Regions from separate parts of the Homo sapiens genome. Here region 2 is linked to region 1. The links come from fine-mapping of genetic effects on gene expression. Tissue or cell type: lymphoblastoid cells. Region 1 holds a variant in brackets; the other region holds the start of a gene. All regions are shown on one strand. Distances are from middle to middle.

Region 1 (8,107 bases):
TGTCTAATGTCAAATTTCCAACTGAAGAAATAATTATTGACTAAGTTATGAATGAATATAGCACATTACTAGAGAATTAACTATGTGTGCATTTATTGTCAGGCAACCATGTAGGATTGAAAAACACAGAGTACACCAGGAGACCCAGGTTCTAACCATGGCCTGGCCACTAAGTAGCTAGGTGAGTTTAGGAAAATCCTGGAACCTCTCTAGGCCTGGCTTGCTTTATCTGGAAATTAGGTATTTGACTAGATGATATAGAAAGTGCTTTTGGCTCTCAGAGGCCATTGAAGTATGGGCCACTGTGGCTCTTCGACCCCATTGAAGTGTGGAGTAAGGCTAACTATTGTTGGACAGCAGAAATACAGTAAAAACATAGAACATTAGATTAACTGAAGCCGATGGGGACCTTCCTCTCACAGGCCATTATTTTTTCCCAAGCAAGATTGAGGAGTCTCACAGCTACAGTTGAAAACTGGACTTTTCTCAATTAGCAGATGTAGTTAATGGGCAGAATTTCTTCAAAGTTTTCCTCTTCTCTATTTCTCTAAAACCAATGGCTGTGATAGCTGACAATAAAATGAAATGAACAAGTATAAAATAAATATTTATGAGGGCAATTTGCAAATAGTTGACCATGCTTAATTGGATAGCCTTTTTCTTTTTTTTCTTTTCTCTTCTTTTCTTTTTTAATGAGCTCTGTGCTCCCAGTTTTGATTCCATACAGGATCATCTATTAAGGTAATATTTTCTAAGTCTAAAATTGTTACTATTCCACAAGGTCTAATTAAATTTGCCACTATTTTTATAGTGCTCAACAAAGAATATGGCATTCAAGGAAAAGCCTTTGACTTCTGATCACTCCTTCACATTTATTACATGAGTAAATCTGAGAACCACTGATCTAGCTTTACAGAAGAAAAAAACAATGAGGCCCAAAGAGGGAAAGTGAGCTGGCCAAGGTGACACAAATGGTTAATGTGAACAGGACCATGAACCCAAGGGCACCAGGCTTCTTGGCCAGAGTCCTCTGAAACTGAAATAGTCCCACGCACCTGGAAGAAGAATGGTTTAAACAATTTCTGCAAGTTACTAATGAACAAGGGAACCATTTCTCAAGTAGGAATTGAATTGCTTAATTCATCTGAAATTAACTTTGATGATACCCCTGCAAAAATACTTTATGAAAAATTATTTTGTTCATTGTGGGAGCTATTGAGAGGGCAGATCTTTTGGTGGAATTTTCCAGTTTCATAGATGATTTCACTTTGAATGATTTCAACACTGAACAAAAATCATGGTGGAGAGGCTGCTGGAAATTGAGTAATAATTAAAGGCAGATTAGCTACGTGAGAATTGCCTTATCATAAGGTTCTGTAAATGTTGCTGTAAGTTATGTGATTTGCTGGAAAGATGACAGAGAGATGGGAGCCCCTGGGAATGGATTACAACTCTGATTAATGAAATAATGCATGTGTTCCTCTCATCAGGGGAGGCCAACGCTTCTCAAAGTGTAGTCTAGAGATACATAGAGGTCCCCATAAAACCTCCAGGGGCCCCAAAGTCAAAATTATTTTGTAATGAAAGAGATTATTTGCCTTCATCCTTCTCATTCTCCCATGAGTGTACAGAACTTTACAAAGGGTGCTTAACGTGTGTCATCACAACTGGCTGAATGCACAAGCAGATAACACGATTCCAGCTGCCTTCTTTTAAGCCTGTATCACAGAGATTTACAAAAATGTAAAACAATGCCACTCTTCTCACTGGTTTTCCTGTGGAAAAATATAGTTACTTTTCATGAACAATGTTATTTACGCTAATGTGCAATGGGTTTACTCTTGTTACTTTTAAATAAATTAACGAATGAATAAATGTTTAAAATGCTTTTCCAGTTTTAATATCAAATACTACAAATGTCAATATTTAAAATCCACATAAACAAGGCTCTTTGGGGTCCTTAATAATTTTAAGGGTGTAAGCAGCCTGAGACAAAAACGTTGAGAATCACTGTGTTAGGCATTTGTGACACAATGGTGAATGCAGCACTCAACAGTGCCCTCGTGGAGCTGGCTTGAGTTCACAACCTAGGGAGTAAATAGGCAGTCAACTGGGAATGGAAATAGCCTATAGGGGAAGGACAGAGTTCTGTGGGAGCACAGGGTGATCCTCTTGAATTGGAAGGATTGTTTCAGTGAAAGAAATGAAGAAGGCATTCCTTAATCATTGCTTTAGACTTCATCTCTTCCATCTCTTAAACATTCAGCCCCTGCCTTTTAATTTTATTCTCCCCCATCAACATTAATTTATTTATTTTAGTTTAGTTTAATTTAACTTAATTTTATTTTTTGAGACAAAGTCTGGCTCTATTGCCTGCTGGAGTGCAGTGGCACGATCTTGGTTCACTGCAACCTTGACCATCCCAGGCTCCAGAAATCCTCCCATCTCAGCCTCCTGAGTAGCTGGGACTACAGATGTGTGCCACTATGCCGGGCTAATTTTTGTACTTTTTGTAGAGATGGGATTTCACCATGTTTCCCAGGCTGGTCTCAAACTCCTGAGCTCTAGTGATCTGTCTGTCTCCCGCCTCCCAAAGTGCTGGGATTACAGGTATGAGCCACCATGCTTGGCTTACCAACAACATTTAAAACTACACAAGCTCCTTCCACTAATAAAGAAGGCCAAAACCCCAAACTTCGTCCCCAGTTCCCCTCCATCTACTGCCCTTTCCATTGCCTCTCCCTCAGCAAAATTTGCAAAGATTTTGCAAAATTCTTTTTGCATCACAGACTTCATTTCTTTCCTTCTCTATCTTCAACACACTCCTACTGCTTTTGTGAAGATTAACAGCGACATCTGCATCAGTATTTTCAGTTCTCATCCCACTTGGTCTCTCAACACTTGCTGTATTTGACCAATCTCCTTCTATTTTCTTGAGATGAAGTCTTACTCTGTTGCCCAGGCTGGAGTGCAGTGGCGCGATCTTGGCTCACTGCAAACTCCACCTCCTGGGTTCAAGTGATTCTCCTGCCTCAGCCTCCCCAGTAGCTGGGACTATGGGACTACAGGCATGCACCACCATGCCCAGCTAATTTTTTGTATTTTTAGTAGAGAGGGGTTTCACCATGTTGGCCAGGCTGGTCTCGAACTCCTGACCTGAGGTGACCCACCCGCCTTGGCCTCCCAAAGTGCTGGGATTACAGGTCTGAGCCACTGCGCCCGGACCTGACAAATCTCCTTCTTAAACACACTCTTCCACTGCTTCCGGAATACCCCAGTCTTCTGAATCTTGCACCCCCTTGCCACCCTCTCACTCTCAGTCCCTTGGGTCTACTTATTCTAATACCCATTCGTGAGCCTTTGAAATTCCACCGGCTTAGACCCAGGGTCTCTTCTCAACTACACCCTCATCAGTACTCCTGGTTTTGATCTCAATGATCAAATGTAAATTTATACAACCCACCTTGACCTCTCCTCTGAGCTTTCAACTACCTACTTGATACTCCCCTTTGGATTTCTTAAAAGGATCTTAAACTGGTATGTGAAAATCCAGATTCCTGATCTGTCCCCTGAAAGGTGGTTCTACTCCAGAATCCATAACTCAGCCTCTTACTATGTAAATGCTAAGTCTAGGAGTCACTCCTGACCCTCCTTCTTGTCACCCTTTCCTGGGCCACTGTGGTAACCATCTGTTACCCTGCATTCACTTGTGTTCCTCCCAATCTTTTCTCCATACAACAGCCAGAGGGATCTTTCACAGTAGTAAATATGATATGACTTTCCCCCATTCAAAGTCCTTTAATGGCTCCCCCTTACCTGTGCAAAAAATTCCTGCCCATCCAATCTGAATTAAAGTCCCACCTCCTGGCCTCCACCTTCCTTTCCAGCCTCCTACTATGGGGTGAATGTGGGTGTCATAGTCAACTCTCTAACATGACATGTCCTTATCATTTGGAATTGCTTGATTTCTTTTTAATTCCCACATTCTGCAAAGCCACAGACCAATGCACATGACTTTTACTTTGCCTAGAATTCCCTCTCCATGTCCCATTTATTCTCCTTCGTCACATCTTGATAACATGTGTTTATAATTGAAGTTTATCTCCAGCTTAACTCTTTGTGAAGCCTCCCTGAATGCTCACCGTGTCCTAACTCTTGCTCTCCGCTATACTCCCAGAGCCTGGGTCGCAAGTCCCATGTATAACCCTCTTCATGTTCTGCTGCTGGTGGTTACTGACAGGTCTGTCTGTCTCCTCATTGGCCTGTGAGCTCCTTAGGGGCAACTGGTTTGTCATTCCTGTATCCCAAGTGGCCAGCTCAGTGCCTGGCACTTGGAAGTCTCCTAAAAGAAGTTTGTGAAACAAATACGGGTGAGTCCAAGGAATGCCTGAGGGAAATATTCAGAAAATAAAAGAAAAGGGGGCAGTTAAATGCTGTCAATCTGTGCGGAGCTGCTCTGGGAGACAGGAAGGCTGTTACCGC[A/C]CTTACCTACTCATCACGCGCATCCTGGCTTTTCCTTCTGGCTTCATAAAGGTGCTTGTGTGGCAGAATGGACTGTGCGAAGGTCCTGCCCTGGACCAGAGGGAGAGGAGTTCCATGAGGTGAAATATAAGGGAAAAGGTGCGTCCACCTGGGGCCAAGTCTGGGATGAAAAATGCTTTTCATAGGTTCCTGAGGGTGACAGTTGTACAAAGGCCTCCTTGGGGGCAGAAGGTGGCAAAGGCACAGCTGCAGATGGGCTGATGAGACTGTTTATTCCCTCGCAGTTGGCATAAAAGCAGAAGTAAATCAAAAGAAAGAACATAACCGTTAGTTCAGATGGAAATAGCAAGTTCCTGGGTTGGGTCTACAGGCTGACATTCTTCTTTCTTATACGATTTGGTACAAATCATAAGGGAAAAAATTAATGTTTCAATTTTTCAGTAAAAACAAAGTCAAAGTTTGATGAGTGTCATGATTGTTAACAGCCTACTGTTGAGTTTCTCCTCTCTGGTGGGCCTGGACTGGGTACTGGGGACACAGGGTGCTGAGAGACAGCCCAGCCCTGCAATTGCATTCTGGCTGGAGAAGGCCGGGGGTGGGAGGAGCGGAAGGAAACTGGCAGCTGTTAAGTAGCTGCTCTGTACTGGCAGCTGGAGACAGATGAACTGCAAGGAGGGGTGGCAGGAGCTGAGCATCAAGGAGTGGTACAAACACAAGCTCCCCAGGAAGCCAGGGAGTAAAGGGCTGCAGAGGCTCCTCCGGGGGAGCTTGTTCTTACTTACTTTTCTATTGGTGTCAGAAGCATCCAGCGTTGCTTCAAGGAGGCCATTCCTGGTATTGCCCTTAGACCCTGGGTCACTGGGTCCTGTGGCCCTCTCTCACCATTCCCATCCCTCAGGAGCAAGGGAGGGAGGAGGGAGAGGACAGGGAATGGAACCAGCACAGAATCAGATGGGAAGCTGTTCCCTGGGTGTAGAAAGAAGTCAAGCAGATCCTCTTGGCGACACAGGGGAGGCTAGTAGGAGACTGGGGAGAGGCAGACAGGACTGTGGAAAGTCTTCAAAGCAGGCCTCAGATTTGAGACAGAATTCTGGGGCCTGGGAGAGTTACTCTGAGTTTCTGAACCAATATTTCTAGAAGATGAATTTGACTGTGGTATGTAGTAGTTCCCAATTCCAGGCCTGCTGACTGGTCGCATCCATGACCTGGGGAGGTTTGTAAAAGTTCAGAGCTTGTCCTGGGCCATACTACAGGTGGTTCTAATCCAGTAAAATGGAGGGGAATCTCAGGCAAAAACATCTTGAAGAAGCTTCCTAAGCAATTCTGGGAAATTTGAGACCCTGCTATGAGTTAGGTTGCATGGGAGGTGTTGGAAGGAAGGTGACCGTATAGAGAATCTGTTGTAATAATTGCAGTGTAATTGAAGATGGTCTGGACTCAGGGAGTGCAAGTGCAGAGGACAAGGGACAGATGAGCCTGCAGACCGCTACATGAGCCCAGCATCAAGCCTTGGCTCTAGGGGAGAAAAAGCAAAAGGGTACCAATAGCATTAATATGGAAGTCAGGAGAGAGTTGTTTAGTGGAGTAAGGTGAGGGTTACGATGAACTCAGAACCAGGTATGTAAGGGAAGGGTCAGAAAAGAGAGCAGAAGTAGAAATGGATTCAGAAAACATATGGAGATGTCACCTGGAGTCTCAGGAATGGATGAGTCATTAGGTGAAGAAAGTGCATGCAGATAATTTAGCTACAAAGGAAACAGGGAGGATGAATGCAGAGAGCGAGTGGGAATGAAAGCAGCTGCATCTATGGGAAGGGCTGTCTCATAGATGAGGGACAGGTCTACCCAGGGTTAGCCCATATGTGGAAGTGGCAGGACAGCAGATCTCAGCTTAAAGTAAGAAATGGCTTCTAACAGATCTGCCGAGAACCTCCCAAGCCAGCTCTGACTGTCAGCTGGTACAGTTTACCAGTTCTATTGGGACTTCAGCATGATTAGTTGATGCGTTGCAGGGAGGTGAAGTAGGGAAAATAATAGCTGAAGAATGAGTAATGTTTAAATTAAGTACCATACTAGGTTTTTTTGTAATGTCATTTTTTATGCCTCTGAGAGATGAGGCCCCCATCCTGGAGTTTGTTCTTATTTACATTTCTATTGGTGTCAGAGGCATCAAATGTTGCTTCCAGGAGCCCATTCCCAGTATTGCCCTTTGGCCCTAGGTTGCTGGGCCCCCTGTCACCATGCCCATCTCCAAGGAGCAAGGAGACCCCAGGGTTAAGGGACATTCCACCAACAGCCTGTACCCCATCGCTGAGCCACAGGCTGTTGGCACTCATGGCCTCAGAATTTCCTTCCCAAAAGGCCCGAAATCTACTTCCACAGCCCACGTGGGCCTCTGCTGCAGTCTCTCCTCCCAGAGAGGACAGATACCCATCTAGAAGCTCACCCCTAGGCCTGAGCTGTGGCCAAGGGGCAGCTGTTTGGGGAATGGATGGAGCTTGGACAGGTGAGTTGGGTGTTCAATCTGTGATGCCAGCAATGTGGAACAGAACTGGGGTGGGAAGAGAAGAGAATGAGATGTCTTCTCCTTATATTCTTGCTTTGCGCTTGCAAATGCTGGGGGGAGGCCTGACCCTCCTGTAACTCCAGGCCGTGATATTTGATGTCCACTGGGTAAACAGTCTATACCAGTCTTTAAAGTCCCCCCTACCCTTTCAAATATAACTAGGAATCAAGCAAATTTGGATTCTAGAGGGAATTGTATTTCTGCTGTAATTACTGTACCATCCATAGGAATTTCTTTTTGTTTAAACTTTTTTTGCATATGATTATAAAATTAATGCATGTTCATGTAAAAACATCATGTAGAATTGCTGAAAAATCTACAGAAGGGAATAAAATTACTTCATATGAAGTAGAGATAACCACTATCAATGTTATGTGTATTTCCGTCCACTCTTTATAATTGCTCTGTATATATGAGATTATACTATGCTTATACATTTTTTCTATAAATCTGGTATCAGAGTGCTCAATTTTTAAATTTTTTCACTTCAAACCATTTTTATTTTCAAATTCTTTAAATATTGCACAAAAGAGATTTTCCAAGATAGTATAAATTCCAATCACATGGTTATGCCATGAAATACTTAAGCAATCCCCTATTGTTGGACATTTAGTTTATCTCTAATTTTTTTGTAATTATAAGTAACATTGTGACAAATATCTATGTATATAATAAATATTTGACTTACCTTCAATTACTCCCCTAGAGTAGATTCCTGGTGGTGAAATTGCTGGGTCAAAGAATGTATACACAGAAATTTTAAATTTCTTGGACATTTTCTAATTTCTACAGCTTTTGTGAGCCATCTCTTGCCAAAGTTGGCTCTAAGGACAATTCTGAACATCAGTTACCAGGAAAAACTGGCATTCAATAAGCAATTATTATGTGCAGTCACTGTACTTGGAACTTTCAGCACCTCATTTATGTCTATGATTTAGCCTTCCCAACAATTTCCTTGAAATATTATCCCAGTTATACCAAGGAGGAAATTAAACTGGAGCTGGAAAGTTACAGAGCTAGGATTCAAGCTAGGTTCCATCTTGCCAAGGCTGGTGTCACC
Region 2 (8,107 bases), 120 kb before region 1:
GGCAGATCACTTGAGGCCAGGAGTTCAAGGCCAGCCTAGCCAACATGGTGAAACCCTGTCTCTACTAAAAACAGAAAATTAGCTGGGCATGGTGGCACATGCCTGTAATCCCAGCTACTCGGGAGGCTGAGGCACGAGAATCGCTTGAACCCGGGAGGCAAAGGCTGCAGTGAGCTGAGACTGAGCCACTGCACCCCCAGCCTGGGACACAGAGTGAGGCTCTGTCTCAAAAAACAACCCAAACAAACAAGCAAAATTACTCCAAATCTGTGGCGGAATTAGGATTTAACATTCCTCTTTCTAACCCTATTTTTTTCTTTTCCACAAAGTACATTATTACTCATACCTTTTTTACTTCATCTTCAAAACCTTTCTCCAGGTATTTGTAGCGCCTGATTAACTTGTTAAAAACCTATGAAGAACATTAAATGAATTCAGTAACTTCATATATTTCTAGAATAGCAAAGTAGTAAACCTTTCACTCGATGTAAGTTTATGAGCTGCTTAAACCAGCTTGAGAAGAATTCCTAGTGACACATAAGAATGTCCAGGTTAGATGTACTTTAATTCTTTGCTTACAGTAACACAAACATAACTACGTATGAAACTTTCCAATGAGATCTTGATTAACAAGCTAATCAGCTCACAACTCATTTAACTTTAAAAATAAATGTATGCAGATAAACTAGAGAAATCACAATACGAAACTGACTTTTCCAGCTTGACATTTTTCTTAAAAATTGAGTAATTTCAGGACAAATAGGAACAGAAGAGTTAATTTCATTTTTCCCTATTTTGTTCGCCTTAACACACCTTAAGTTTCTAATTCATCCCGTTGCACCAAGAACAGTATCCCTAAAATTTAAAATCAAATTCCTTCAACTTTCTAACCACAACTCTTAAAAGTAGAATATTCCTCAAATATACCACATGGATAGTAGCCAACTGAAAACAATTATGTAAAGTTTCATTTACCTGAGCAAATGCTTGCATGGTCTCTAGATCTTCTTGGGCTGCAAACACGCAGACATCTGTACGCATCATGTCATCTGCCAGTGTACCACCTGGGGCTAAAGTTGGATAAAACCAAAATACAACAAAACCAAAAAAATCACTCCATTTTAACAAGTTTGCCAAATAGTTCATATTCTAGACTCTCCATAATCTCCATATATTATACCTTTCTAAATTATTAAGCCCACAAACCACAGACACTTACCCAGCATTCCACCAGCCACCAGAATGTCAAAGAGTGTTTCTGCATATCGACGGTAATCAAGTTTTGCTCCAGAAGCATCAAGAAACTTAGCTACTGCTTCCAAATCAGTACCGGTTTCAGTTAAGCCTTGAATAATACAGTCTTGAAACTGAGTAGGGTCAAACCTCTCTTTTTCATCTGGGGGGACAAGGGACCCAAAACATTTAGTTTTAAAAGATTTACCAAAATGCCACAAAACTATCACCTTATGAAGATGCAATTGTTAAATAAGTTAGATTAAATTCACATCCTTTGCATGTTTCCCCTCTGCAAGTGTAAGACAAGATGGCCCACTCACAAGAATTGTGCAACTTTTCAAATAATTTCACAAGTGATCTAAATGTGCTAGTGTCTTGTGTTCCTACTGCCATAAGCCAATTTCTACTGGGAACGCCCTCCTACTGCCTCTTGGCTTTTCCAAAATTTAGGCCATCCTCTAACAGGTACATTTTATTCCTTTGGGTTTTGTCCAGACACTGGAGCTCTTGATCCTTTTCCTTAAATGTCCATAATATTAAACAAACAAAAAAATTGAACCAATCCTTTGGCATTTATGAAGGTGAGCTTTAGAAAGTACATTTAATGAGCACCCAATGACAGAAACTATATTAAGCATTTGCTTTAATCCTGTTAACAACCTTGTGAGGCAGATTTTTCCCCCTATTATTCAGAAGGAAAACTGAGAGTCAGAGAAATTAGGTAATCAAGAGACTATATTGTGTAGTAGTTCAGTACATGGGCTCTGGAGTTAAACTGCCTGATTCAAATCCTGACCACCATTTAACCACCTGAATTCAAGCAAATAGTCTCACTCGCCATGCCAGAATTCCCCTACTGTAAAATGGGGATAAGAATAGTACCTATCCCATAAAGTTGTTGTAAATACCAAATGACATTAATAAAATAGAAAGCTCCCAGACCACAGCCTTGTGCACATACCTGACCTTTACTGAGTTGCTTTCACACACTTCATAATAGGGTTTTGCTTTCCCAATCTAGGCTAGATGACATCTGTTCACACAGTACTAGGGTGACAAACACCTCTGAGTGCCCAGCACTTTCCTGGTTTTAGCACTGAAAGTCTTGTGTCTGGAAACTCCCTCAGTCCCAGACAGGGAGTGTTGTATACCCTACCCAGTACCCTAACCATCAACAGCCAGGCCACGAATCATCTCTATCTGGAACCGGGGAAGTTACATCTCTCCCTGATGCTAATAATAAGAATGCTAAAGCTACTTGCTATTATTTGTATCAAGGTAACATCAGTAACCCACATATTCAAGAGATACACTTTCCCATTTTACTGCCAAACTGTTCTAGTTTACAACTCCAGCTCCTTAAGAAAATTTACCAGCTAAATCTAAATGAATCTGCAAAGATTAGAATCAAATCACACTTTGGTCTCCCCACCACTACTACAAGGGGACAGACAGCCTATGATTAGTGATTTTAAAATTCTACAATATATATCTCAAAATGTCTGCTACTTAAGGAAGAAAAAGAAAAACACAACTTATAACCAGTAGCTGACCTAGTTCTTCATTTCCTCAAAACCACCTGTAAAACAAGGTTAATATGCTTTTGACCAAAAACAGTAAAAATATATCTGAGACTACGTCTTATTTAGCTTTATATCACTAGCACAGCACTTTGCTACAGAATTCAATACTCACCTAAGTACACACTAATGCAAAAAAAAAATAGTAATATAATTCTAATACTTTTTCTACTAAGTCTGTATTTCAAAAGACATTACAATGTGAATCCTGTTCCACAATTAACTTCCATGGGTGAAGTCTGAGTTTTCTCTCACAAATCTTCACAAAATCTGGGTGACTACATTAGGAGTTCTCCTTTTATAAATTAACATTTTTGCTCATTTAAGTTTGCTTAAATGAGACTGCCTGCTAGTGAAAACAGAGCCCTTATTTTTATTTTTAAAAATATTTTACCTTCACACCGAAAAGAAGATTCACTAACCGGCTTAGAGATATATTGATACTAAAAATTAAGGCTTGAGCAGTAAAGCAGTAGAAATATTAAAGGTGTATGTGAAATGGCAGTCAACGAGAAATTCAAGTTTCTTTCTGGTATCTTCTTTTGAGGCTTTAGTAATATGCAAGTACCTGTCAGAGAAGGCAAGATACACAAGATGTTCTGGAGGTTTGAAGAGAGACATTAAAACGTAAATATTTACCTCTTTTTCTAGTTTTAAAACGCTGGCCTGATAGCGTTGGCTTTTGCTGCTTTTGATTATTCATAAAAGACACCCTAGGAAAGGAGAAATAAAGCCTTAATATCAGTGCCATAATACTAATTTTTAAAGCAAAACATCAAACCTTAGTCTAGTCACATATGAATCAAATGGAACACCCACTCTCAGGATATAAAGCTGGCAATTATACCCGATACAGGCACAAAGAATTACCTGCACTTGAATCAAATGTACGTCAAAATGTGCATTTCTCTCTACAAGAAACCCTTCAAATTAGTGCTGTGAACTACTTTTAAGCGACATTGTAGTGCTACAGTGATCACCCGTCATAAACCTAATTGTTCAGTTTTCTCCACATTCCTCTTTACATTCACTTACATCTTCCACGACCACTAAGCATCGCAGAACGCAAAGAGAGATTATCACCATAGTCAGCAGGCATCCAAAATGTGTATGCCAATTCTAAAACACTGTCAAAAGGTGAACCCCTTCTTCTGACAAGCCTGGTTACGGGCAGCACCATCCTACCCTAGGTCATGCCTGTGACCGCAACAGCGGCCGCCTTGCACCACTCAGGCCTGCAAAACTAACAGCCAGCCCAGCCTCCTTCGCCCATATCCCACAGTCCTAGCCTCCTCCCCGGTAACGTGTCTCCCAATCCACACCCTTCCCATGCCTCCCGCCCGAGCCACAGATCACCCGCTTCCCGCCCAGGACCCCATCGGCCACAGCGGGGCGCCGTAGGGTCCCGCGGCTCTTTCTCCACTGACCCTGTCGCCTGCGGTGGCGGCCGCCGCAACGAGCGGACCACAGTCACTGAGGCGCTTTGCGCCGGGGCCCCAGGCGCCCCGTACATCCGCCCGCCCTCCAGCGAAAGCAGCGGCGGAGGCGGCGGCCGCAGCGGTGGTGGGTGGCAGCCCCTCCGCCCCGCCCGCCGGAAGCCCCCACGCGTACATCACACAACAGAGGCCGCGGCGGCTTTGTTAGCCAGGCCGGGCACGGCCCAGAGGGAGCCCGCCTCGGCCACTGCCTTCGCAGCCAGCGCCGCGGCGCACACCCGGACCCCACCTCCCCACCCGGGCCGCCGCTACCCCTCGGCCTCCCTGCCGAAGCGGCGGCCTTTCAGGCCCTAGATCCGGCCCGGCCTCAAGAGGCGACCTCCGTTCGGGCCCATCCAAGCCGGGCCGCATCCAGCCCGCCGCCTCCCTCTCCCTCTGCCCGGCGTCCACGACCCGCAGCGTCCGCCCGGGGTGAGCGGGGCGCCGCGTCTCACCGAATTTAAGGCGAAGAGGAAAGAGCCAGAAATCCCCGATGTACCGGCAACTGCGGCGGTGTCTCCTCTGCGACCGGAACTAACGCCAGGAGGAGGGAGAGGTGCCACCCCCGCCCGGACCGCTCTCCTATCGCGAGATTTCTTCCCCTTGCCCCGCCCTGATCGTGGACAGGCGCTTCCGCCTTTTCTATTGCGCGCGGATTAGGGTGAGGGACTGGGATAGGGGAGGGGAGAGACGTTTCCAGTCTTCTTTATTCCCTTACTGGGTTCCACGTCGCCTGGACACTTGTCCTAGACTAGCTTATTTTTCTTCCCCCGCTGCGTCGTCCGCCCTCTTCACACATGGAGGGGTTGGAAGAGCGGAGCCGGCCCCCGCCGGTCTCGAAGTTGGACGCGTCCTCCTGGAGTCCCTCGCCGCCGGCCCCCTCCTCCAGCACCGGAAGTCGAAGCCCGAGGGCGGGGGGCCCTCGGGTCGTGCGGGGGCGGAGGCTGGGGGCGGGCATGGGGGCGTGGTTTGGGGAAGGAATCCGCACCTCGCCTCCGCCCTGGCCGGGATGGGCGGAGTTCGCTCCAGCTGAGTCCCCTGCCTGGCGACTTTTCTCTGAGGGGCTGTCTCATTGTTCACTACCTCCCTTAAGAGCGAAGAGGACACAGGCCGAAGATTGAGAAGGGGAAATTCTGTCCTCCAACCGCGGTCCCTGCGCGCTGCAGCGGTTGTCTCCCGAGTGTGGTGGCTATGGGGACTTGGAGAGCATCAGAATCCCTTGGAGGACTTGTTATAACAGACTGCTGGGCCCCACCCGTAGTTTCTCATTCTGTAGGCCTGGTGTGGAACCCATGAATGTGCATTTCCAACAAGTTATCTGTGATGCTGCTGCTGGTCCGCACCTTGAGAACCCCTCAGTTAGAGGCTATATCATCAGGGAGCTGGGGTACGATCAGATTAGATAGTGCGTGTGAAAAGCACTGTGGACGTGACAAAACTCTGTGCAGATAAAGATGCACAGCGCCTCTAGGATGTAGCCCCATGTTTTTATTCACTGTACAGTAGTTTACTTCTCTCCAGTTGCTTCCTCACTCTCTGGTAGGAGGAGAGTGGCTTCTCTTCCCTAAACCTTTTGATAAAATAGTTTGTTGACTTCTTTTCCCTAATTAACTATCTGACCTCTACCCCACCCCCCCGCAACTTCATGGAAAAATGACTTTCTCAGCGTTCGTTCCTGAAATTATTGCCAAACCCAGTGTTTTATTCTTCACCCTGTTTGCCTCCTCTGAGCATTGAATGTTACCTACCTCTCTCCTTGAATCCTGGCTCCAGCTATCCTGGTTACGTTCTGAATGTGCCTTTGCACGGTATTTTCTGACTCTTCTTTTCTGTACTGATACCTTTTCTTTCTGGATACTTTCTTCTATGGCAGTCTCATACATTCTCAAGGATTTAACATTTACTCCACTTAAAAGAGTTCCAAGATCATCTACTGAATCATTAAGCAAATATTTGTTAAATCCAGGCTCTATGCCCTTCCAAGTTGAGGCAACAGCAGTGGGAAGGAGGCAGGAAACAAACTGCATCTGTTGGAGGAACTGCAAGAAGCTAGTGTGATTGGGAGGGCTGTGGGGAGCAGAGGGAAGTGGCTGGAGTCTGATCTCTAAGTGTCTAGCCCCTTCCTTTCTCCCAAGGCCCCAGTCCACACTATCTGGCATCTTCACTTCATGGCTAATTTAACACTGTCAGTGCTGTCAATTGCTCTTCCCCCAGAACTGTATTTTTCACATCTGAAGTTCTGTTAAAGGACAACGTTTCACAAATAAAAATGATAACTAATATGTCCCTATATGTATCAGGCCCTCTTCTATGCACTTTATGTAGTAACCCCATTTCATCCTGAAAACTACCCTGTAATCTAGACACTATTATTAGTCCCATTTTACAGATGGAAAAGCCGAGGCATCGAGGTCAGGTAACTTGTCTAAGATCATAGCGCTAGTAAGTGGAAGAGGTCCAGTTGAACCCAAGCAGTCTGGCTTCACCATTATAATGCACCGCCTTACCACCAAGATCTTATTTATTCATTCAACAAATATTTATTCAGCTAGAGACCAGTAGAGATAGTGACATGTTACGCCTATGGCCTCACAAAGCTTATCTTCTATTTTTGCCACGTTTTAAAATTGTATCATCTTTCCCCAGTACCATCTTGATTTAGGCATCTATTACCCCTAACTAAATGGGACTTTTGCAATAACTTCCTAACTGTACTATCCCCTTTCTCAACATTTCCAGAGCAATCTTCTCAACTGCAAGCTGAATCATTTCTCTTCACTGTTTAAATGCCTCTGTTTATACTCAGGGATAGCTCTGACCAATGTTTTTCACCTTTACTTCCCATCACATTTGTGGTTCTTAACCTGTTATTACCATCATTGTGGGGTATGTAGCAAATGATTTTTGACTAAAAATGATATTAAAGTAAGCAGATTATTTTCTTTAAAATGTAAAGTGGATTAAAGGTTTTCCTGAACTCCTGGCCTCAAATAATCCTCCCACCTTGGCCTCCTGAAGTGTTGGGATTACAGACCACACCTTGCCACTTATCTTTTCTCTGCTTTTGGGTGCACCCATGGGAATAGGCACCGTGCAGCTAGCAGGGGAAACGTTGTTTGTGAATTGTATTATGGTAGGAAAAGGTTCCAAACAATTGAACTCTATGCTTTGGTCAGACAGGACACATCTTGTCTTGACCTTTCTTGAGATGTCCTTCCCTCATTTTCCACTGTCAAAATCCCACTATTGTTTCAAGCCTTATCTCAACTACTGCTTTTTTCCCATAAGCCTTTCTTAGTCATGGATGTGAACACATTCCTTCTTTGTAATTGGGCTACAGGCATGAGCCACTGAGTCTGCTAATTTTTTTTTTTTTTTTTTGGTGATGATGGGGTTTTGCTTTGTGGCCCAGGCTGGTCTCAAACTCCTGGCCTTAGGTGAGCCTCCCGCCTCAGCCTCCCAAAGTGCTGAGATTATAGGTGTGAATCATCACGCCTAGCCTTGCCCAGTTTTATGGTTGTTTTGGGAAAAAGGATATGCTGATTTCTTCACTCTGCCATTGCTGTGAATCCCCCTTAGTACTTTTGGATTTAAAAATTTTGAACTACTTAAAAAGAAAGGTGCTAAGTGCAACATGTGAATGTGCTACTGCTTTTAACTTCATTGATGGGAATGGATACCTAAGTGTTTCTTTTTTAAAAGCAAGTGACAATAGGTTTTTATTCCTAACAACTAGAAGAATATCAAGGGCCTGTTTTGAAAAGCACATTGTTGCCCTTGGAAAATGAGCTGGGGGAAGTATTTATTCCTATGCTT

Direction of the effects. Positions count from the first base shown, and alleles are read on the strand shown. Sizes are in standard deviations (SD) of each study's normalised expression.
For the expression in lymphoblastoid cells of the gene that starts at base 4,827 in region 2, allele A in region 1 goes with a lower level than allele C (small effect, 0.24 SD a copy in TwinsUK).

The links. PIP is the estimated chance that this variant, and not a neighbour inherited with it, causes the effect.
Region 2: it holds the start of BZW1, and the variant in region 1 is fine-mapped to the expression of BZW1 in lymphoblastoid cells (TwinsUK, PIP 0.95).

What each region holds. Positions count from the first base shown.
Region 1 is chr2:200,692,393-200,700,499 of GRCh38, reverse strand. It overlaps the pseudogene AOX3P-AOX2P and the pseudogene AOX3P. Among named protein-coding and RNA genes, the nearest start is that of LINC01792, 39 kb to the left of the region's middle. The variant A/C (reference allele first, on the strand shown) is at 4,483.
Region 2 is chr2:200,808,630-200,816,736 of GRCh38, reverse strand. BZW1 (basic leucine zipper and W2 domains 1) reads right to left here and starts at 4,827. Exons shown (of 12, transcript NM_001207067.2): 1 at 4,747-4,827; 2 at 3,456-3,529; 3 at 1,220-1,396; 4 at 976-1,070; 5 at 347-412. The coding sequence starts at 3,519. BZW1-AS1 (BZW1 antisense RNA 1) reads left to right here and starts at 4,567. Exons shown (of 4, transcript NR_110275.1): 1 at 4,567-4,952. RefSeq lists enhancers at 3,474-3,989, 3,990-4,505, 5,354-5,613 and silencers at 4,254-4,623, 5,154-5,303.